Linked DNA regions of Homo sapiens. The protein of the gene in region 3 interacts with the protein of the main gene of each other region in a pairwise test. Each region holds a gene or a part of one and is shown on either strand. Other genes may lie near its edges.

What was found. Proteins that work in one complex are often made in the same cells at the same time.
Region 1: the proteins of NCS1 (region 3) and ZC3H10 interact in binary tests that used the Homo sapiens proteins (3 or more experiments, as listed by UniProt).
Region 2: the proteins of NCS1 (region 3) and CREM interact in binary tests that used the Homo sapiens proteins (3 or more experiments, as listed by UniProt).

The regions. Positions count from the first base shown.
Region 1 is NC_000012.12:56,121,266-56,128,325, forward strand, and holds the end of ZC3H10 (zinc finger CCCH domain-containing protein 10), read left to right. Parts: coding exon 1-602; 3' UTR 603-6,249; downstream 6,250-7,060. Other genes in the region: ESYT1 (extended synaptotagmin-1), read left to right, coding at 7,055-7,060. UniProt on the Homo sapiens protein: Specific regulator of miRNA biogenesis. Binds, via the C3H1-type zinc finger domains, to the binding motif 5'-GCAGCGC-3' on microRNA pri-MIR143 and negatively regulates the processing to mature microRNA.
Region 2 is NC_000010.11:35,122,762-35,130,156, forward strand, and holds the start of CREM (cAMP-responsive element modulator), read left to right. Parts: upstream 1-4,084; 5' UTR 4,085-4,432; intron 4,433-4,465; exon of another isoform or gene 4,466-4,806; intron 4,807-7,395.
Region 3 is NC_000009.12:130,167,748-130,175,571, forward strand, and holds the start of NCS1 (neuronal calcium sensor 1), read left to right. Parts: upstream 1-4,656; 5' UTR 4,657-4,916; coding exon 4,917-4,980; intron 4,981-7,824. UniProt on the Homo sapiens protein: Neuronal calcium sensor, regulator of G protein-coupled receptor phosphorylation in a calcium dependent manner. Directly regulates GRK1 (RHOK), but not GRK2 to GRK5. Can substitute for calmodulin. Stimulates PI4KB kinase activity.

The DNA.
Region 1 (7,060 bases), on a different chromosome or scaffold from region 3:
TGGAGTGCAGACTGCTAGAGGAGGAGAATGCCATGCTCAGGAAGCGGGTAGAGGAGTTAAAGAAGCAGGTCAGCAACCTGCTGGCCACCAATGAGGTACTACTGGAACAAAATGCTCAGTTCCGCAATCAGGCCAAGGTCATAACCCTGAGCTCCACTGCACCAGCGACTGAGCAGACTCTGGCCCCCACTGTGGGCACTGTTGCCACTTTTAACCATGGCATTGCCCAGACTCACACTACTCTCAGCAGCCAGGCTCTACAGCCTCGTCCAGTGTCCCAGCAAGAACTGGTGGCCCCTGCTGGAGCTCCAGCTGCTCCCCCAACTAATGCTGCACCTCCTGCTGCTCCACCACCCCCACCCCCACACTTGACCCCAGAGATCACGCCACTGTCAGCTGCCCTGGCTCAAACAATTGCCCAGGGAATGGCACCTCCACCTGTCTCCATGGCTCCTGTGGCTGTATCTGTGGCTCCTGTGGCCCCTGTGGCTGTATCGATGGCCCAACCCTTGGCAGGAATCACAATGAGCCACACCACCACTCCCATGGTGACTTACCCTATCGCTTCCCAGAGCATGCGCATCACGGCCATGCCACACTGATGGGGCTAATGGACACTCCCCTGGTATAGCCTCGCAGGGCTGGGGTCAGGGGGCCCTTGCCCACTCACCTAGCCTTCCCCATCCCTGTCTGAAGGGCTCCCTTGAGAACTAGGACAAGAGACTACAAGGAGTATGTCCTGAGGAGGGGTTGGGATGGTGTGTTTTCTCTCACCTCCCTTTTATGAGGGTCCTCTTGTCCATCTTCAAGCCTCACAGTGGGGGCTTGCAGAGGAGTGCAGACTGAAGCCAGCAGAGAGGAAGGACTGACTGAGGGGCTGTGTCCTCTTATGGGAATTTGGGAACATCCCTCGTCTTGTCCTCTCTTCTGCACAGCACAGGTTCCAGCACTGGTTTTAGAAGAAAAAAATACCCTGCCCAGAGGGAAAGCCAGGAAAGATTGGGAAGTGGGTGGTCAGGAGAGAAGGCCTGATAGGAGCCTTCAGACAATTTGGGTCCTAGTTGCTTGGGTTGGACAATACAGGAATTGCTTCTGGGCCCTGGGAAAGCTGGGACCATAGTGCTCCAGCCCAAAGACTAGGGGAGCATTCATTACCCTAGTTTGACCTGAAAATCCATAGGGCAGGGCCCACTACTTTCCAAAGAAATAAAAGAACAATTATTTTTAACAAATGGAGGCAGTGAAAACTTGCTTAGCTATTCTGTGTGGAAGATGGGAGCAGTAAATAGATCTCATGCCAAAATGGGATAAAGACCCCAGCCTCACATAGCTTTGGTAAGATGGATAGAAGCCAGTGAAGAAGGGTAGGGACCCAGAACAAGACCAAATGGGGCTTTGGGGAAGGCACTTTATGGGGTAAAAGCTTTGGAGCCACCCAGTCTAGTTTTAAAAATAGTCCCATCTGTTTCTGGTCTCTGTCTGTATGTGCTATTCCCAGGTTGCCTCAGTAACCAGGGCTCCTAGGGTCATTTAGCAGGGCAGGCAGTAAGGAGAGTGTATTTGCTGAAATGCGGATGGGATGTTACATAGTTGACAGATCCTTATTCAAACAGAGCAGGACAGGTGGAGTTGATGGCCATTGAGTTGATGGCAGTTGCCGCTCAGTTGATGGCAGTTAATGTCCCTCCTACCCCACCCCTTCAGTGGCCAGTTCCTGAAGCCTTCAAGGCTTGGGAGGTCTGGGAAAAGAGAGTCCTTCTAGGGACACAAGCCTCAGGGTCCATCCCTTTCCTCTGTCTCCACATAGGACCAGAAGTTTTAAATCTACTTAAGTCAGTAAGGCCAGGGGCCCCAATAGTCAAACCTCAGTTCCTCCTCAGCTCACGGCTGATGTAGGGAAAACAACTCAGGTGTCTAGTCTAATGGGACAGTAGATTTGGGGGTAGAGAGTGATCCTGGATTGTGTTCCCCCTCATCATGTCTCCTGCTACCTCTTGCTTTCTTGTCTGGTTGATCACTCAGGTCACATCTGGGATTGGAGATGGTGGGCTAGGTCAAGGCCAGTCATTAAAAAAAAAAGCCTAAAGACTAAAAGTGGGCTAACATTGTGGATTTTAGAAACAACACATTGATAAGCTTAATGTTTTTTGGGACACAATTTTTTTTTTTTTTTTTGAGATGGAGTCTTGCCCAGTCACCAGACCGGAGTGCAGTGGCGCAATCTCGGTTCACTGTAACCTGCGCCTCCTGGGTTCAAGCGATTCTCTTGCGTCAGCCTCCCGAGTAGCTGAGACTACAGGCGCCCGCCACCACGCCCGGCTAATTTTTTTATTTTTAGTAGAGACGGGGTTTCATCGTGTTGGCCAGAATGGTCTCTATCTCTCGTGATCCGCCCGCCTCAGCCTCCCAAAGTGCTGGGATTACAGGCATGAACCACCGTGCCCGGCAATTCTAGACTATTAAAAGAGATGGTTTAAGAGCATTTAGAGAAGAATGTAACCATAGATACCAACATGAATTCTCAGTCAAATCCTGACTGACTTTATTTCCTCCTTGCCAGGTTATCTCCAAAGAGGTAGATTTGGGAAATTTTAGACATTGTATGTCTTGTATGTATTTACTCCAGCTGAAGACCACCAAGAATACACCTGGTAATTGAGCAAGTTGGGTTTAATGCTCATTGCAGTGAGGGGGAGGGCTCACCATTGGGGATAACGTGGTGTGTCTCAGCATGAGGGTGTTAGGAACGACTTAGAGAACTTAGACTTTGGTTAAGTGATTTTGGGGAAGATTCAAGAAAGTGGGTGTTCTTTTGGATTGGGTGCTGTTAAGGGAATCCAGGATAATTGGGTAGCTTGTCTAGAAGAAGGGCAGACAAGTGAACCTAAGCACAGTCGATGATGAAGTCACTCACTAGCTGGGAAAGGGGATGTTTGCTGTTTTGTGGTTTGCACACTGACCTTGTTTTGTGCTTAAACAAAATTGTGTAGTGATTTTGTTTTTTGTCTCACTTCATCGCAGTCACTGAGTGACCTTGTCTGATGCTGGTGTTTTGTGAGATTGTTTGTGTCCAAGAGAACTCATTGGCTACCTGTGAGCACCAGGTCAGCCCTAACAGCTCTGAAGCCTGGCTGTGTCAGGCCAGTTCCCAGATTACAGGAGCTACTTTCCTCTCTCTCACCTGCTAAGTCATCACAGATAAGAGGAAAATTACGGGTCAGTTAATCGTAGCATTTTTTCCATGCAAATGGCTCTGGTTAAAAAATAATGAGAAAAAAATAGTAGCATTTGGTAGAATCAAACTGAACACTTGTACTTAGTGTTGGTTAGCGCATTTATGTTAGAGAAATCTCTGTTCTCTAGTGATAAGCCCAAGGGCTATGTTTTATTGTAAAAAGAAAAAACCCAACTCGGGTAAACATGTAAAAAACCCATTTATCAACAGTAACACAGGAAGAGCTAAATAATATTCAAAGTGTCTGTAACTTGAATTGACTAAAACACTGGAGCACTCTCACACTAAAAAATTGCTTAGATCTTGAACTAGTTTGAGGAACAATGTTAGAGATTTATATTAGCAATAATTCACATGAGAACAAACTGGGACTTCCAGTTGGCTGCAAAAAAATAGAATCTTAGCCCTCAAGATGTCCATTTATAAATATTTATTAAGAGCCTGCTATGTTCTAGGCATCTTTCTAGGAGCTCCATAAGGGTAGTAGAACCTTGGTAATAGATTACAAATACAGCAGTTCTATGTTCTGCCTAAGTGTAACCACTTAGTAGTGTGTTGTTCTAAATGTAATTTTTAAAGAGGGCCATTGACAAACCAGTGTGTTGCTAGAAAAAAAAGGCTGGCAAGAGAAAGCTTCAAATAGAAGTCTTCAAATATTTGAAGGGCTGCCCAGTGGAGGAAGATCCTGTTTGCTACACAGGAAGTAAAAAGGGATTTCTAGAATAATGGCTAACTTTTTTTTTTTTTTTTTTTTTGAGACGGAGTCTAGCTGTGTGGCCCAGGCTTCAGTGCAGTGGCACGATCTCTGCTCACTGCAAACTCTGCCTCCAGGGTTTACGCCATTCTGCTGCCTCAGCCTCCAGAGTAGCTGGGACTATAGGTGCCCAGCTAATTTTCTTTTTGTATTTTTAGTAGAGACGGGGTTTCACCGTGTTAGCCAGGACGGTCTCCATATCCTGACCTCGTGATCCGCCCACCTCGGCCTCCCAAAGTGCTGGGATTACAGGCGTTGAGCCACCGCACCCAGCCGGCTAGCATTTGTTGACTGCTTAATATAAGCCAAGGCTCTGTGCTAGGCACTTTACATGCAACATCTCATTGACACAATGGGTAATATTATTGTACCCATTTTACAGAGGAGAAAGCAGGCTTAAAAAGTAACCTGCCCAGGGTTCTGCAAGTAAGGAATGGGGCCAGGAATCTATTCAGGCAGTCTCACTCCAGACGACAAAAGAAAGTTCTAATGATATAGCCATCCAACAAAGCGATCACTACTTGGCAGTAATTTTTTTTTTTTTTTTTTGAGACGGAGTATCACTCTGTTGCCCAGGCTGGAGTGTAGTGGCGTGATCTCGGCCCACTGCAGCCTCCGCCTCTCGGGTTCAAGTGATTCTCCTGCCTCAGCCTCCCAAGTAGAGTAACTGGGATTACAGGTACATGCCACCATGCTCGGCTAATTTTTGTATTTTTAGTAGAGACGGGGTTTCGCCATGTTGGCCAGGCTGGTCTTGAACTCCTGACCTCAGGTGATCCAACTGCCTCGGCCTTCCAAAGTGCTGGGATTACAGGCATGAGCCACCGCGACTGGCTTGGCAGTAACTTTTGAGGAATAAAGAATACAGAAGGAGTTTCCTCAAATCTTGTTGCCCTTCCCATCTTTGTGAGCTGAGATCAGAGTACCGTATCTCACCCTCTGCCTCTTGGAGGTGATTATGGTTTACATATAAATGCAGATTGCAAGTCCAGGAAGTTTACTCTCTCTCCTCCTGTAGGCCTCATCCTGTAAGACACTTCCTCTAACAAATGGGCATCCCTTCCTGTTGTCCACTTACTGCTTATCACCACCAGGTGGCACCTGGGCAGCAGAATTGTCAGTGGGCGGGGACCCACCCTGTTTACTTGTGTTGGTAACTGCATTGCAGCTGCTGATCCTGTGGCTCCTGGGCCCCAGCTGGGACAAGAACTTCCTGAGGATGAAGTTTTATCCCCTATATAATTTCTGATGATCTGGATGAGGTGAGGAAGGGAGAAGTTTGGAAAAGAACCTCCATAGGTCACCCTCTCCATTCCCCCATTCTCAGGAACCTCCTTGCCTACTCCAGTGCTTGGCAAATTTCAGTTTATAGAGAGGTTTCTCTCTAAGGTTCATCCATGTTCCTTCTGTAGTTCTGCTTTATCAGTTGGTGAGCAGGTCACTCATAATTCCTCCAATTTCCTTGTTTCCCTTTTCTACCTGCTTACCTCTGGGAATATGGAGGATATAGGAGACAGAATATTGTTTCTTAAATAGTTCTGCAAACTGAATGAAGCAGTCAAGATACTGCTAGCCCTAGGGAAGTAGAGAAAAGGAAGTGAAAAAATTTAAGTGATAGAGGCTGAGCAGGGACAGGTTTTAAGCAGCTTTGGTAAACACAGGCTGATGAAATCTATGCCCTGCAGAACCAGATAAAATTTATCAGCTGCAGGCCTCATCCTGTAAGACACTTCCTCTAAGAAATGGCTAGTTTCTTCCCAGTGATCAACCCCAGTTCTTCTGCTGCATCTGACAGATTTACATAATATGCCCCATATATACTGCATTAAAAGGTAATCATCTTATGACCAACACTTCCCTCATCAACTTCCAATTAGTCTAGTTCCTAGATCCTAGGACAACACTCCACCTCTAACGCCAGTTAACTAGTAACAATAGTCATCGGTGTACCCTGCACTTTTTCCTTCCTAAACCTACACCGTACACTGTGGGACTGCACTAGTTCTGCACCTGACTGTATGGCAAACCTTCCTTCTAACTCAGGCAAATGTGAAAAGGAATTGTCTTTCCCTTACTCTTGATCCCTCATTTTAGTGTCCTAGAAGTTCTTCAGGGTCAGAAAATTATTGGAAAATGTAATAATTTGCGCTGCCTCCCTCCCTTTTGGAGCCAACTAGTCTTACATCCATCCTCTAAGATAGAGATGACTTACTAACTCTTGGAAATTTCCAAAAAGAAATAAAGCCTCACTTTCTATTCACTCTGCTTTTTTTCCCCCTTTCCCTGAAGGCTGGATTATCTCAACTCTGTAATTCTCTGACTCTCCAGTTTTCTCCAGGGTCAGTCGTTACACCACACAAAGAAGGTAGGGGATTAGGGACGGGATAGACGGGGTTAGTTTTCAAACACTTTCATTCCAAATACGATCGTATCCTTTCCTTTTGTAAGGGCAGGCAGGAAAAAGTTGAAGGATAAGGAATGTGCTTAGAGTATGAAAACTAGAGAAAGTCGGCAAAAGAACATATATATATATCCCAGACCAAATCCTGCCAAACCGAATGAGTAGAGGGAAATCCTGAAGCTCCACAACCCCTCAACTTCGCAACTTGGGCTTTCTCCAAAACCAAGAAATTGGCGGTGCAGCTCTGCATGACGTCATACCACAGGCACTCCAATCCCACGTGGGGGAGCTCTTGGTCCCGCCTCTCCTGAAATGGTGCGCCACGCCTCCTCCTCTTTATTACCAATCGAATGCCGCCCCTGAGCCCCTTTCTTCCTTTTCCCGCCATCTCAGACCTCCCATCTTGGCCTTCGGGCCCAATCAGGGAGGCCCTACCTATCCGAAACCCGGTCCGTTCCCCGCGGAAGAGGGGTGGAGTTTCAACCTTTTAACTCCACCTTGGTCTGTGCAGCGCGGACCAACCCAAATCGCCAGAAAGGAGGGGCGTGGCTTGAAGTCCCCTCCTCCATCCCGGGGATCACGTTTTGCCTGGGGGAGCTGATCGCAAGACTAGGCAACCTCCAGCCAGTCCCTGGGTCGGGCGGATCCTCCCAGAGGTGGCACAATGGAG
Region 2 (7,395 bases), on a different chromosome or scaffold from region 3:
TAAGTAGCTGGGATTACAGGCATGCGCCACCATGCCCAGCTTATTTTTGTATTTTTAGTAGAGATGGGGTTTTGCCATATTAGCCAGGCTGTTTGTTCTCAAACTCCTCACCTCAAGTGATCTGCTCACCTCAGCCTCCCAATGTGCTAGAATTATAGGCGTGGGCCACTGTGCCTGGCCAATATCCCCATTTTAGAGAACCCATCTATATAAAAAAATTAAAAAAATTAGCCAGGCATGGTGGTGCACACCTGTAGTCCTAGCTACTCAGGAGGCTGAGGTGGGAGGATTGCTTGAGCCTGGGAGGTCAAGACTGCAGTGAGCTGTGACGGCACCACTGCACTCCAGCCAGGGTGACAGAGTGAGATCCGATCTACAAACAAGCAAAACATAACAAAAAACAAAACAAAACAAAACAAAGGACTTCATGCCAAACTTAGTTACACTCTGTCAGCTAATAACATCTCACTGGTGTTTCTGCTTCAATTAAAATGTCATTTATTTTTAAAATATATAAAGCATTCTTGCAGTACACAATTCAAGAGGCCACCAAAGATAATTCACAGTCTCCTTTCACTTCTGTTCCTTAAGTTTCAGTCCCTCCTAGTCACTGTAGATTTTCTAAGAGAAATCACATCACCAGAGCTGTATCTAAGGAAAATGAATCAGACAGAAATACTTAGGATGAACTATAATGGAAGTACCAGATGGGTAATAGTGGGAATAAAAAAAAAAGGGATGGATGCAAGTTTCTACAGGCAAAAGCAACAGGACTTAGCATTTAGCATAGGGCCTGGAACATAGCAGGCACTTCAAAATATTTTCTATGTGGCTCCTGAATGACATGAGTAGAAGAATGACCAAAATCGTTTCAAGGTGTAGAGGCAGGATGACAAGGAGCTGAAAAGTGCCATTAACATTGCTAAAACAACAATAAAAAATCAAGATTCAGGTATGAAAGGGGAAGAAGACAAGACATGTAGTTTTGAACCTATGAGTTGGAAATGCTCATGGGCCATGTAAGTGAGAACTGTCAGGTGTTTGGAAATGTGACCTGGTGCTAATGAATGAAGTTGGAAGCTTTGGGTATAAATTTTAGAATTATCTTTCAAAAAAATTGGGTATGATTAGATAACTAAAGAAAATACTGTTTGAGGACAGTATAGAAGATGATGTCCAAGGACAGAAAATTAGTAACTGTCTACATTAGGGAGACAAAGATGAGTGAAACCATGAGAGCCAAGTATCATGAAAATTCAGGAGGGAGACTATGTTAAGAAAGTGGCAGGCTTATGCCTGTAATCCCAACACTTTGGGAAGCCGAGGTGGGAGGATCGCTTTAGACTAGGTACTTGAAGCTGAATGAGCTATGATTGCACCACTGTACTCTAACCTGGGTGACAGAGCGAGACTCTGCCTCTAAGTAAATACATTTAAAAAATAAGGCAGTAGTCATTGGTAGTATCTGATGAGGAAAATAGGTCAAGTAGAATGAAAAATGAGAAAAAGTGGTCAGATTTAGTCATCAGAAAGGCGACAGACAAGTGCAATGGCTCATGCCTATAATCCCAGCACTTTCAGAGGCTAAGGTGGAAGGATTGCTTAAGCCCAGGAGTTCCAGACTAGCCTGGACAAGAGACTCCATGTCTACATATAAAAATAAAAATTAAATTAAAAAAAAAAGAGACGGAAGAGGGCAAAAATTTGGCAGGAAATAACAAACAAATGGGTGGTGAAGAAGTGAATACAACCCCTGCCTTGCCTTCTTCTCTTGAGAAATCTGAAGGTGAGGGGATGGCAAGGGATGGAACAGTAAGCAAATGGGCAAAAAATGAAATGTAAATGTGCAACCCGGAATTGGCAACTCTGTGGCCTTCCTTATAGGGCTAGCAGTGCCAACAGTTTTCAAGAGGCACGATACTAACACATTTGTAGGGAAAGGAGCCAAGAGGACGAAAAAGGCTGTAGGTATGACTCTTGGTAATTGAGCAAGATCTGATATGGGAAAGAAATGACATCTAACTTACAGTTGGATTCGGAGAGGAAAAAGAGGTGCTCCTCCCGACCCAGAAAGGGAGGGAAAGTTTAAGATATTTTGAAGTGAGGAGGGAATATAAGGGTGTGACTGACAGCCCGTATTTTCTCAGAAAAGTAGGTGACCTAGTTGTCCCTCCCCAACAGAGAATTAACTATCACCTAGGTGAGGAGCCCCAAAAGCTAGACACTGGACTAACGTAAACATGAGTAGGTTTTTAAGTATTTATCTTATGGCAGATATTTTTTAAAATCTACAATAATCCTAACAGGTAGGTACTATTTTTCTTCCCATTTAAAAACCTTATGCTTCCCCTAAGAGGATATGACACTTGCCCACAGCTAACAAGCATACATTTAAACCCAGATCCAACTGCATGGTTTTTAAGTCTATTACATCTTACAGCAAGGGTATAGCAGAGGCCATGAACTGATGGGCTTGTAAGTATGTGTATCTCACCTCCAGTATTGATCTTTGTAAAAAAACAGATGAACAAAAAAATATGGTTTGTGCTTTCTGAACTTTATAATTAAGACTACATACATATGGGAGTAAAATACTGGCAAGAAAGGAAACCGTAGAGCAAATACTTTGCAAATAAGAAATTGCCATTCCTTTGATTCTTTTTGATTCATATGAACTCCTGTTACAGAGACAATTGTTGTGGATACATTCCCTTTGACCTACGAAAATTAGATTTGAACAAAGGTTCAGATTGGATTTAGATTAAGTCCTGCTCAGTGAAAATTATGAAAACACTCTGACACTACAGTAACTGATATGAAATAATAAATCCTCACTTAACATTGTCAATAGCTTCTTAGAAACTGGTTTTCAGTGAAACAACGTACAATGAAACCGATTTTTGTTATCATCAATATTATAACGAAATGAAAACAACACTGAATGAAAATTTTTTTGTGGACCTGCTGTAAGTTGTTTGGCTTAAAGCCATGATTTCTAAGAACCTATCGTTAAGTGAGGACCTACTGTACTCTATAACCATGCTGCTATTCTTTATTCCTGATATCCCATTACTTTTTTTATTTTTGAGATGGAGCCTCGCTCTGTCACCCAGACTGGAGTGCAGTGGAACGATCTCAGCTCACTGCAGCCTTGACCTCCCAGGTTCAAGCGATTCTCCTGCCTCAGCCTCCCAACTAGCTGGGACTACAGGCGTCTGCCACCACTCCTAGCTAATTTTTGTATTTTTAGTAGAGATGGGGTTTCACCATGTTGGCCAGGCTGCTCCTGACCTCAGGTGATCTGCCCATGTCTGCCTCCCAAAATGCTGGGATTACAGGCGTGAGCCCCCGGCCGACCTTTCTAATCTAAAAAAAAAAAAAGAGATGAAGTCTCACTGTGTTCCCTAGGCTGGTCTCCTGGGCTCAAGCGATCCTCCCACCTTGGCCTCCCGAAGTGTTGGGATTACAGGCCCGAGCCAGCGGGCCCAGCATGCGGACCATTTCCAGTCAAATACTGGGATAAACTGCAATAAATGACCCTAAGAAGCAGGTGAATTGTCTCAGGAGCTCAAGCTTCTTTTGGAGAAGGACTCAACCAGCTGTGACTGGCTGTGAATATGGAGGAAAAGGGCCACTAGTCAAGGTATGTAGATAGCTTTTAGAAGTCAGAAGAAGCACGCCTGCAGTCCCAGCTACTCAGGAGGCTGAGGCCGGAGGATCGCTTGAGCCTGGGGAGATAGAGGTTGCAGAGAGCCGAGACCACGCCACTGCAGCCCAGCCTGGACAGAGGTGAGACGCTCGCGGACCTTAGCTTGGGGTTGGCGGCGTTAGGAAGAAACCGACCTCGAGACCCTGAAGACCTGACAACAGCCGTTACTCTGGCTGACAAGTCATTGGATTTCTGGCGCACGCGCGGCGCGGCACGGGCAGCTTCCGGTTTCCAGCCTTGCCCCCGCCCCTACCTTCCGCCCCACCTCCAGGCTAGTTCCTCCTCTTGGCCCCGCCCCCTGACCTTCCTTCTCCCTATCCCTAGGCCCCGCCCCCTGACCCGCACCTTCCCGCCGCCCCTCCCCGGTTCCATTTCATTGTTGGATTGTGGCGCTTCACTCCTGCTGGCGGCCGGCAGGGGGCGGAGTTCGAGCCTGGATTTTTTTCCTCGGGGCCTCCCCCGGGAGGCCGTCCCGGCGTGGGGGAGGGGAGGACGGGGCGGGAGGACGCGGTTCGGTCGGCTGCAGCGCTACTTTTGGTCCGGGGTCGGCAGGGAGGCCGCGGCTACCGCATCACAGCTGACGTGAGGACTACGTGGGGCCGCTGCCGGCTCCGGGTTGCTGGGCGGCGGCGCCGCTGCTGAGCGGCGGTCGGGCTCGCCGTCTCCACCTCCTCGCGTCCGTAATCAGTGACGAGGTCCGCTACGTAAATCCCTTTGCGGCGGGTAAGTGGTGCGTCGGCTCCGGCCCCGAGACCCAGCAGCGGGCGACGCGGCGCAGGAGGTGGAGGTGGAGGCAGGAGGCGGAGCGGAGCCGGGTGCGGTGGAGCAGCAGAGGCCGAGCGGAGCCGTGGGCGGCGGGCCGGGACCCCGGGGCCGGGCCAAGGACTGGCGGGGCAGCCGCGAGTTCACCTGACGCGGCCCCTCGCTCGGCGCCCCCGAGGCCGCCGGCTCGCCGCCCCACGCCCGCTTCGTGCGCTCAGCTGCCCCGGGACCCGCCTGCCTCCTCGCGAACTTGGGACGAGTTGGAAAATCCTCCCTGAGAGAGCCGTGCGGCTCAGGGGAGCGGTTTAACTCGGAAAAGGAAAAGGAATCCAGAAGTAAGGACCTCGGATTTGAGTGCCCCCAGCGCCTCTGCCCCACTTTACGAGCGCAGTTTAGACGAAAGCGGACGCAGCCCGTTTTCCCCCAAAACCTGGGCCGGAGGGCCTCGCAGCTGAGTCATTCGGTCCCGGGCGCGGGCAGTCTCCGGAGTGGGAAGGGCAGAGCCGCGACCGCTCTCGGAAGGCGCATTTTCCCTTCTGCCTGAGTCTTGCCTTTTTAGGGCCATCTGGTAAGGTTTCCAGAGCCTGTTGAATCTGGGGAATAAACACATTATTAAACATACTTTTTTTTTTTGAGACGGAGTCTTGCTGTTACCCAGGCTGGAATGCAGGGGCATGATCTCGGCTCACTGCAGCCTCTGCCTCCTGGGTTCAAGCGATTCTCTTGCCTCAGCCTCCCGAGTAGCTGGGATTACAGGCATGCGCCACCACGCCTGCTAATTTTTGTATTTTTAGTAGAGATGGGGTTTTACCATGTTGGTCAGGCTGGTCTCGAACTCCTGACCTTCCACCCACCTCGGCCTCCCAAAGTGCTGGGATTACAGGCGTGAGCCGCCGCGCCTGGCCTCAGCATGTTTCTTGATCCTGTTGCGTTTTATTTGTATATCAGATACCTGAGTTTGAAATCACTTAGGGGTTTCCTGCATGCTGCTCAGTGAAGCAGCGGTGAGTTTGTAATCACATTTTAAGAAATTGGGACTTACAGGGCCAGTCTCAAAGTGTCACTGAAATTGAAAGAGCTCCTTTAACACTGTGGCTTACGTACGTGACTCAGTTTCCTTTCTACTTAATTTGCCGGGCAGATGAGGGTGTACCTTTCCCTTGAAACAAAGATCTAGATTGAACAGTGAGAGGTCCGCTGTGAACATTGCATCAGATTACATGAATAAACCACGCTGTTTTTTATTTGTTGTTTTTTTGTTTTTTGCTTTGAGCGCCACGTTTTTTTCCTAGTCTTTTTTTTTTTTTTTTTGAGACGGGGTCTCGCTCTGTCGCCCAGGCTGGAGTGCAGTGGTCCGCTCTCAGCTCACTGCAAGCTCCGCCTCCTGGGTTCACGCCATTCTCCTGCCTCAGCCTCCTGAGTAGCTGGGACTACAGGCGCCCGCCACCACGCCTGGCTAATTTTTTGTATTTTTAGTAGAAACGGGGTTTCACAGTGTTAGCCAGGATGGTCTCGATCTCCTGACCTCGTGATCCGCCCGCGTCGGCCTCCCAAAGTGCTGGGATTACAGGCATGAGCCACCGCTCCCGGCCTTTTTTTCCTAGTCTTGATTCTTTTTTTGGATAAACTTTCCCTTCCTAAGTCATAGTAGTCTTAAAGTCTTTCAATCTAAAGTAATTTTTTTCCCAAAGGAAGGCAAATTGCACACAATATGTTTTGGCCAATAAATGCTAAGTATTAAAACTGATGTTTAAAGAACTATGTATTGATCCCAACACAGCTTTAACAAATATATTAAAATGGTTTTGATCCTGAATGAGTAAACACTTAAAGCATTGTCAGTATTCACACAACTTTGGCGAATCTGTAAATAGATGAATATAACACTTACTTTCCCAGTGAATTGGTGATGGATATGGAATCATTTTGGTGATTGCGAAGTTGTAATTACGGTGATGTTTTGTGTACATATTTTGGTGACAGTATATGAATAAATTTTTATTGAATGCGTAAACATAGGACATTTTTATTTTTAGTCTTTTTGTTTTTGCATTGTCCCTGAAAGTTAATGAAATTTACTTCTTCTTCCTGAATTTTAAACTCTGGAATCCATAGTTAATAGGCTGTATTCCAGTTTCCTACTCAGGTGAGTCACTGCCTAATCAAAATACAAAATCTTGCTTAGGGTTATGACCATTTCATGAAAAGTAGGGAAGAGTTTTGAATTATTAACATATATAAGGAATCCTGACTGAATCTTTACCAACATAGACATATATTTCTGATCCTTTTTCTCCCAAGTTGTATTCCCTGCAAATTAAGTATTGGGCCAGAAGATTGAGCTAGGTTTATTGTTTAAGTGGATGTTCTTACTGAAAAGCTCTCAAATGTCCTGTTCCTTTTAGATAGACTTCTTAAAATAAAACTGAACAGTGCAAACACTTAATAGCTGAACGATTGAGAGACGTTATTTTTTAGAGCAGTTTTACAACCATTGATATTTTTATATTTCCTTACCAACATTGATTGATAAGGAAATAAGCCTGAAATACCGAATTTTATTGTTTCTACTTAAGTAAATGGATGGATTCCATATGTAAAAGTCAGCTTTGAAAATAGTTATTATTGTACATTGAATACAGTTTTGATATTATCAACACAGGAACTTAAAAATCCAGTTTAGGCCGGGCATGGTGGCTCACGCCTGTAATCCCAGCATTTTGGGAGGCTGAGGCAGGCGGATCGCCTGAGGTCAGGAGTTCAAGACCAGCCTAACCAACATGAAGAAACCCCGTCTCTACTAAAAATACAAAATTAGCCGGGCATGGTGGCCCATGCCTGTAATTGTGGCTACTTGGGAGGCTGAGACTGGAGAATTGCTTGAACCCCGGAGGCGGAGGGTGCAGTGAGCCAAGATCAAGCCA
Region 3 (7,824 bases):
TGGGTTGCACGTTTTTTTCACTTAAACATCAAAATCCTGTAGTGGAAAGACCTGGAACCTCTGCTTCTTGGATTGTGACCAGGGCATCAGAGAGCAGATCTGAGTCCTTCATGTGGTGGCTCAGGCTCAGCATTTTAAGCTGATGTGGGCAGGGACCTTTTCAGCTAAAAACCAGGTCAGGAAGAGGGATGGCTGGTCCCAAGGCCCAGCACTTTCCCACATGCCGTCCCCACATCACGGGGGTCCAAAACACTCCCCCCACCCTTCCCCAAGCAGTTCCCATGCTTCTCCCTCCTTCCTAAAACACATTCTTCCCTGGCTTCCAGCACTGCCTCCTGGTGGTCTTCCTACCTCCCCGTCAGCACCCCTGCTGTCTCCCTGGCCTGACCTTCTCAGCCTACACTCCCTCCCTCGGTGACCTCATCCTGTCTCAAGACTTTAAAGGGCATGTCTGCCAGGATGGCTCCCAGTGCATACCTGCAGCCTGGACCTGTCCCTGAACTCCAGACGCCTGTGCCACCTGCTTTCTCCCGTCACCACTTGGACATCTGGTAAGCATTTCACACCTCACCTGTCTGCAGTAAGATTCCAGCTCTTCCTGTCCAAACCTGTCCACTCCCCATCTTAGCAAATAGAAACCCCACTCTTCCATAAGCTCAGCTCAGAAAGCCCGGCCTTGTCCTTGAGTCCCCTCTCTCCGTCTCATACCTTCCAGCCCCCAAATGTCTCTCCTGCCTTCCAGCCCCCAAATGTCTCTCCTGCCTTCCAGCCCCAAATGTCTCTCCTGCCTCTAAGCATACTCCATCCACTCCTGCTTTCCCCTGAAGCCCCTGCCCAGGCTGACCCCCGGGCCCCAGGAAGTCTTCAGATGGGGATGGACTTGCTGGCCTGGAGGAGCTCATTCTGCAGAGGAGGTAGGATGGGCCTCAGCTGGAGGGATCTGGTGTAGACTTGGGAGCAGAATGTCTCCCAACCTTGAAGACCAACTCAGAGGAGACAGCAGTGAGGGAATCCTGCTCTCACTACCCTCAAAATGTCACCGAGTCTAGCCAGTTCTGTGTCCTCCAAGGCCACACTACACGTGGCCACCACCACCTCCTGGCTGATGATACAGTGACCTCTGGCAGTTCCCCATTCTTACCCATCTGTGCCTGGAGTCAGTTCTCCCTGCAGCAGCAGCTGAAGGGGCCGGCTAAGCACATCAGATCCCTTGAGTCGGGAGTCTGACCTTGCCTCCCCACTCTGCACCTCGCCCTTTAAAGCCCACCTTACTGTACCCCTGCAAGGCCACACACAAGGCTGTACGTGGGCCAGCTGGGCTCCACCTGGGCTCTGCCACGGGGCCTGGGCGATGCTCCCCCTCTGCTCTCAGTGAGGCTCCTTCTCTAGCCAACACCACACACCTCCGGCCCTCAGCCCTTCCCATTTTCCTTCCCGCCTCATTTTTCTTCTTTCACCTGTGAGATACATTCTACTCATGCAGCGTATTTATGGTTTCTTTTTTCTTTTCTTTTCCTTCCTTCCTTCCTTCCTTCCTTCCTTCCTTCCTTCCTTCCTTCCTTCTTTCCTTCTTTCTTTCTTTCTTTCAGACAAAGTCTTGCTCTGTCACTCAGGCTGGAATGCAGTGGTGCGATCTCAGCTCACCACAACCTCTGCCTCCCAGGTTCAAGTGATTCTCCTGTCTCAGCCTCCCAAGTAGCTGGGACTACAGGCGTGCACCACCATGCCCGGCTAATTTTTGTATTTTTAGTAGAGACGGGGTTTCATTATGTTGGCCAGGCTGGTCTTGAACTCCTGACCTCGTGATCCGCCCGCCTTGGCCTCCCAAAGTGCTGGGATTACAGGCATGAGCCACTGCGCCCCCGTGTTTCTGGTTTCTATGCTGCACTTATGCATGTTGTTTATTGTTTATAGCACTCTCCCCTCACGAAAGTGTAAGGTCCCTGATGGCAGGGATCTGGTCTATGTCCCCAGGGCACATAGTAGGTGCTTAGTAAACATGTCCCGAATGATGGGATGAATCTGTGAAGTCCCTGAGTTCCTTGGCAGGTGTTCCCATGTATGTTCCCCCACCCTCTCCATTCCTTGCATGGTGTTTGTTGCCAGTGTGATTTTGTGATCGCTGTGCAGCAGGTCGGGTCAGATCCGTGAGCTCCCATGTTGGTCTCAGTGCCCAGCACGGCACCTGGCACAGGGGCAGTGAGCAAGAAATACTCACAGGATGAGTACCTGGGTTTCTTGTGTGTGTGTGTGAATGCATGTGAGTGTGTGAGTGTGTGTGTGTGTGTGTTGAGACAGGGTCTCATCACCTAGGCTGGAGTACAGTGGTGCCAACAGGGCTTACTTCAGCCTCTACCTCCTAGGCTCAAACAATCCTCCTGCCTCAGCCTCCCGAGTAGCTGAGACTACAGGCATGTGCCACCATGCCCAGTTAATTTTTTTTTGTATTTTTTGTAGGAATGGGGTTTCACCATGTTGCCCAGGCTGGTCTTGAACTCCTGAGCTCGAGCCATCCACCTGCCTTGTCCTCCCAAAGTGCTGTGATTATAGGCATGAGCCACCATGCCTGGCCTGCCTTCCCTCCCTCCCTCCCTTCCTTCCCTCCTTCCTTCCTTCCTTTCTCTTTCTTTTTTTCTCTTCTCTTTTCATGTGTGTGTGTTTGTGTGTGTGTGTGTGTGTGAGAGAGAGAGAGAGAGAGAGAGTCAGGGTCTTTCTCTGTCACCCAGGCTGGAATGCAGTGGCACAATGACGGCTCACTGCAGCCTCGCCCTGCTGGGTTCAAGTGATCCTTCCACTTCAGCCACCCGAGTAACGGGGAGTTAGGCATGTGTCACCAAGCCCAGCTAACTTTTAAAAATTTTTGTAGAGATGAGGTCTCCCCTGTCAGGCTGGTCTTGAACTCCTAAGCTCAAGTAATCCTTCCACCTCAGCCTCTCAAAGTGCTGGGATTACCAGCATGAGCCACTGCACCCAGCCTGAGCACCTGGGTTTCTAAAGGGCTTTAACTACTACTGCTGTCATCCAGCCAGGCCCTGGTTCCCGTGCTGGCTCTCCCTCCTCCCAGGCAGGATGCTCAGCACAGTCTGGTCAACTGTTAGCCCCCCACTGTGGGCCCCTCACTGCTGTCCACTCTGAGTTGGTCCTCAAGGTTGGGACATTCTGCTCCCAGGTCTACACCAGATCCCTCCAACTGGGCCCACCTCCTCTGCAGAATGAGCTCCCCAAGCCAGCAAGTCCATCCCCATCTGAAGACTTCCTGGGGCCTGGGGCTCAGCCTGGGCAGGGGCTTCAGGGGAAAGCAGGAGTGGATGGAGTATGCTTAGAGGCAGGAGAGATATTTGGGAGCTGGAAGGCACTCGGCCCTGCTCAGGGTTCCTCTGAGCTTTCTGGACCCTCCGAGGTTAGAACACTGTGGAAAGAAGGGAGAAAGAGACCCCACTCCTGCCTCATCCCTGCTAGCCCCGGGGAGGGCTGCCTCATCCTCCCCGCTCTCTCCCCTACCCCAGGGCCCCAGCACCGGGTGTCATTCTTTCCTCCGTCCTTCGCTCATTCACAGAGATTTGCTGGGTAACACCTCAGGCGGCCTTCTGGGTTATGGAGATGCCTCTGCCCTCTGGGAGGGTGTTCTCCCATGGAAGAGACAAACAGGATGCAGAAAACATAGGTGACGTTTGTGATGGATGTGAAGGAGAGAAACTAAAGCCGAAAAGGATAGGAGAGTTCTCAAGATATGATGATATGTTGGATGAGGTGGACCGGGAAGGCCATGCTGGACCTACCACCTGAACCACACCCCCCTACGCGAATCCACTGGCCTCTGTCCATTCAGGTGGAGCCTGTCACCCCAGCCTCGGCTCAGAGAAACAGCTCTGAGCAGCTCTGACCTGTCACTCCAGCAGCTCTGACCCATCACTCTCTGCTGAAGTCCTTTCATGGGCGCTGGTGGGCAGGGGCCCAGCTCCTCGGCGAGGGGCCTCTCCTGGCCTGCCCCGTGGGCCCTGCCCTTCTCCCAGGTCCCCTGTGCCTGCAGCCGTGCGCAAGCCCGCAAGCCGGGGAACTCTCCCTCGGGCATGCAGGCCTCCCCGCCTCTCCAGGTTGCCTGGGCCAGAACGCTTCTCCATCCACCTCCCTTCCTGACCCTGGGTTTGGAGGTCTCCTGCCCCCAGGCCGAGAGTAGGTGCTCCCACCGCTACCTGCCGCATCCCGCACAGCCCCCTGCCCGCCCTGCGAGGGCTGGGGCACTCCTGTCCCGTGGGCCGCCGTGTCCCCGGCACCCCATGAATCCGTGTCGAATGAATGAATGTCTCCGGGCCGGGACCTGGCCTCATTCACATCCGATCTTCCGGGCCCTCCCCGCCGCGGCGGGGGCCGGAGCGCCAGGGCTGGATTCGGGGAGGGGGTGGCGGGGGTGGCTGCCCCGCCCTGGGGCCGCGTTGAGCCGAGGGGACGCCCCTCCGGCTGGCTGGCGAGGCCGGGGTCCAGCTGGCGGAGGCCGCGGCCAGGCGGGTGCGGGGCGGGAGGTGGCGCCGGGCGCTGAGTGGCGGCTCCGGGTCCACCCCTGGCGCGCGGGTGCGGGCGGGAGGGGGGAGGCGGGAGGCGGGGAGCGCAGGGGCGGCGGCAGGCGGGAGGCAGCAGCGAGCATGTGCCGCGGAGCCCAGTAACCAGGGACGACCGCGGCCACACCGCGCCGGCGCCGGCGCCCAGCCCAGGCAGCCCCGCGCCGCGGCGCCCGGACCGCCCGGGCCTGCCCAGCGGCCGCCCCACGCCCCGGGCGCCCCGGCGCCGACAGCCGCGCAGCGCAGCGCGGGCGCCGCAGACAAAGGCGCGGCCCCGGCCCGGCCCGCCCGGCCCAGCCGCTCCTGCTGGGCGCCCCAACCGGGTCCGGCCCGGGGGGGCGGGGGCCGCGGCCGCCGAGGATGGGGAAATCCAACAGCAAGTTGAAGCCCGAAGTTGTGGAGGAGCTGACCAGGAAGACCTACTGTGAGTGCTCCCAGCCCCCAGCCCGCGCCCCGCGGTCACCCCCACACCCACCGCCCCCGCCCCCGCCCCCCGGACCCGCGCGCTACCCGCTCCGCGCTGCCGCCTCCGCTCCGTCCTCCCCGCCCGGCCTCCAATGTGGACCCCTCGGAGGTTCCCGGGCCGCGCCCCTGCCCCCCGCCCGGCCCCATTGTTCTGGCACCCCCAGCCCGGGGAGTGCGCGCCGGTCGGCGTGCGCGGCGCCACCCCTAGGTCCGGAGGGGCAGCCCCAGCCCCCTGGCGGCCCCCTCTCCGCAGAGCTGTCCCAACGGGCAGGGGCTGTTGCCAGGGTGGGGCGGTGGTCCCGGGAGGGGGCGCCCGGCTGCGCGGAGCCGACTGGCACGAGCGCGCGGGGCTGGTGATTCATGCATCACGATGCCGCCGCCGCCGCTGCTGCGAGATTGGCCTGTCGCCCCCTCCCTGGCCCCGTTCGTGTGGGGGGGGGGGTGGCGAGACTTGGCACAGCGCTCGTCGTGCGGTGACGGCGGTGAAGGGTCCCCGGCACCCTGTGGGTTGCAGCACTTACAGGCTGGATTCTCCCTGGCCCCATCTCTGTCTGCCACACCGGGAAGTGGGTTTCTACAGCCCGGGTCATCTGGGCCGCGTGTGATCATTAGCTGTCGCGGGCTGCCCGGAGGAGGATGGCCTGTCCTTTCTGGGCGTCTCCAGATCAGCCTCAGTGTGTCTCCCTCCACTTGCCTAACTTCACAACTCTGCAGTCCCCTTGCAGTCCTAGTTTCTCCATACCAGGCTTCCCCCTTCCCTGCAGCCTCTCCGGAGGTGCCCTGGCATACCAGGGGTTAATGGTAATGGGTCCAGACCACCCAGGGGATTGCCAGAGGGAAGGCTTCAGCATCGGGGTCTGGAAGGACCTCTGCCTGGGTGTTTGACTTGGAAGGGGACAGTGGTTCTGGGCTTGGGTTGGAATTCAGAACCCATCCCCGGGCAGCTGCGTGGGCCCAGGCCCTCTGCACCACCCCTGGAGGCAGCAGCTTGACCGCCAGCCCCATGTGTTGATGGAGGCTGGGGAGGCAGCTCCTGGTGGTGCATTGCACAACCTCTGCTCCCCGCTTCCCCCCACTCCATCGGCCTTCTGGGCACGTCTGCAGGTCTGTCCAAGCCCACGCTTCAGCTCCATGCCCCTCACCCCTCATGCTTGGAACAAAGGGGGCTTTCCTGAGCGGGTGCTAGTCTGCTGCGAGGTGCTGGCCCTTCTCCTGTGGAATCCTGCAGCATGGAGCTCACATCCCAAGAGCTGCTACCTGGAAGGGGTGAAGCCCCTGGGCACAGGGGCTGTTCTCACCCTCTCTCCAAGGTGGGCAGGTGGGTGGCCCATTCCAGTCTGGCTGCTGTTTTGTGAGATTCGCTGGGGACTCCTTCAAGCTAAGTCCAGATGTGGCCCACAGCCGCCAGCAGGTGGACTTCCTGGGTCCCTGTGCCGGGGGAGGGTGAGGACACCGTGGGCTCCATCAGGAGTGGTGGGCATGGGCTGCACGGGATGCCTCCATCATGGTGGGACAGGGGAGTGAAGCCAGGTTTCCTGCTCATCGAGCATGTCACGTGCCAAGCTCTTGGCATCATTAGCACCTCGACTCTGCCACAACTGCTCTACCAGGCTGGGTGCTGCTACGATCTCCATTTACAGATGGGGAAACTAAGGCTCAGAGGGGCAAAGTGGCATTCCCATGATCCCACAGCTAGTGACCAGGCAGTGCCAGGACTTGAACTCCGGTCTGTCCTGCTCCAAGGCTAGTGAGAGACTTCAGAGCTCGTGCCAAGAGCTCTTCTGGGCCAGGCACAGTGGCTCACGCCTGTAATCCCAGCACTTTGGGAGGCCGAGGCGGGTGGACCAGCCTGACCAACGTGGAGAAACCCCCATCTCTACTAAAAATACAAAATTAGCTGGGCATGGTGGCACATGCCTGTAATCCCAGCTACTCGGGAGGCTGAGGCAGGAGAATCGCTTGAACCTGGGAGGCGGAGGTTGCGGTGAGGTGAGATTGCTCCAAGAGGGAAACTCTGTCTCCAAAAAAAAAAAAAAAAAGCTCTGCTGGGTGTCTTTTTCTGGCTTTTGCTAGAAGCCCATGATGGTGGATTCTAAATGGGAAGGGCCTGGGGTGATAGTCCTGTCCGGCCCCCTCCTCCGGGCAGATCTGTCAACTTTAAGAGAAGTTGAGTCAACAAAGCTTTGTTAGGAACTGGCCCTTGTGGTGCTGGGCTGGGCTATTTTTAAAGGCCTTTGGAGACGTGGAACAGTTTTGGGCAGAGAGAGAGTTGGCCTGGGTACTTTTCCTCTGTCGAAGCCCTTATTAGGGGTGGGCCGTTGGAGGTGGCGGTGGGTTCATTGGCCTCCTGTCTGCCTCCCGCGCTGACGTCAGCTCCCTAGTGCAGGCCCTTGTGTGTGGAGCTCACAGCTGTGTTCCCCCCATGTGTTGGCCTTTAGTAGGTTCACAGAATGAAAAGTCTCCCAACAGGACAAGCAGAGAAAGCTTCCAGCTTGTTCTCCCGCCCCCAGATGGGCTTCCTTCTGATGGGGAGTGGAGCCATCTGCTCTTTGTTCTGGGGGATTCTGTGTATGGGGTCAAGAGAAGCGCCCCAGGAAGGACTCTCAAATGTCAGAATCTCCTGGTTGATTAATAAACATGAAGGTACCTGGGCTGCCCTCCCGGATTTCCGATTCTTTAGGTCTGGCTGGGGCCCAGGAATTTGCATCCTTGACACGTGTTTGTGCTGCAGATGGTGGTCCTGGGGAGCCCGGATTGAAGACCACAGTTCCAGTGTATGCTGGGGGTCCTAGCCCACCTCATG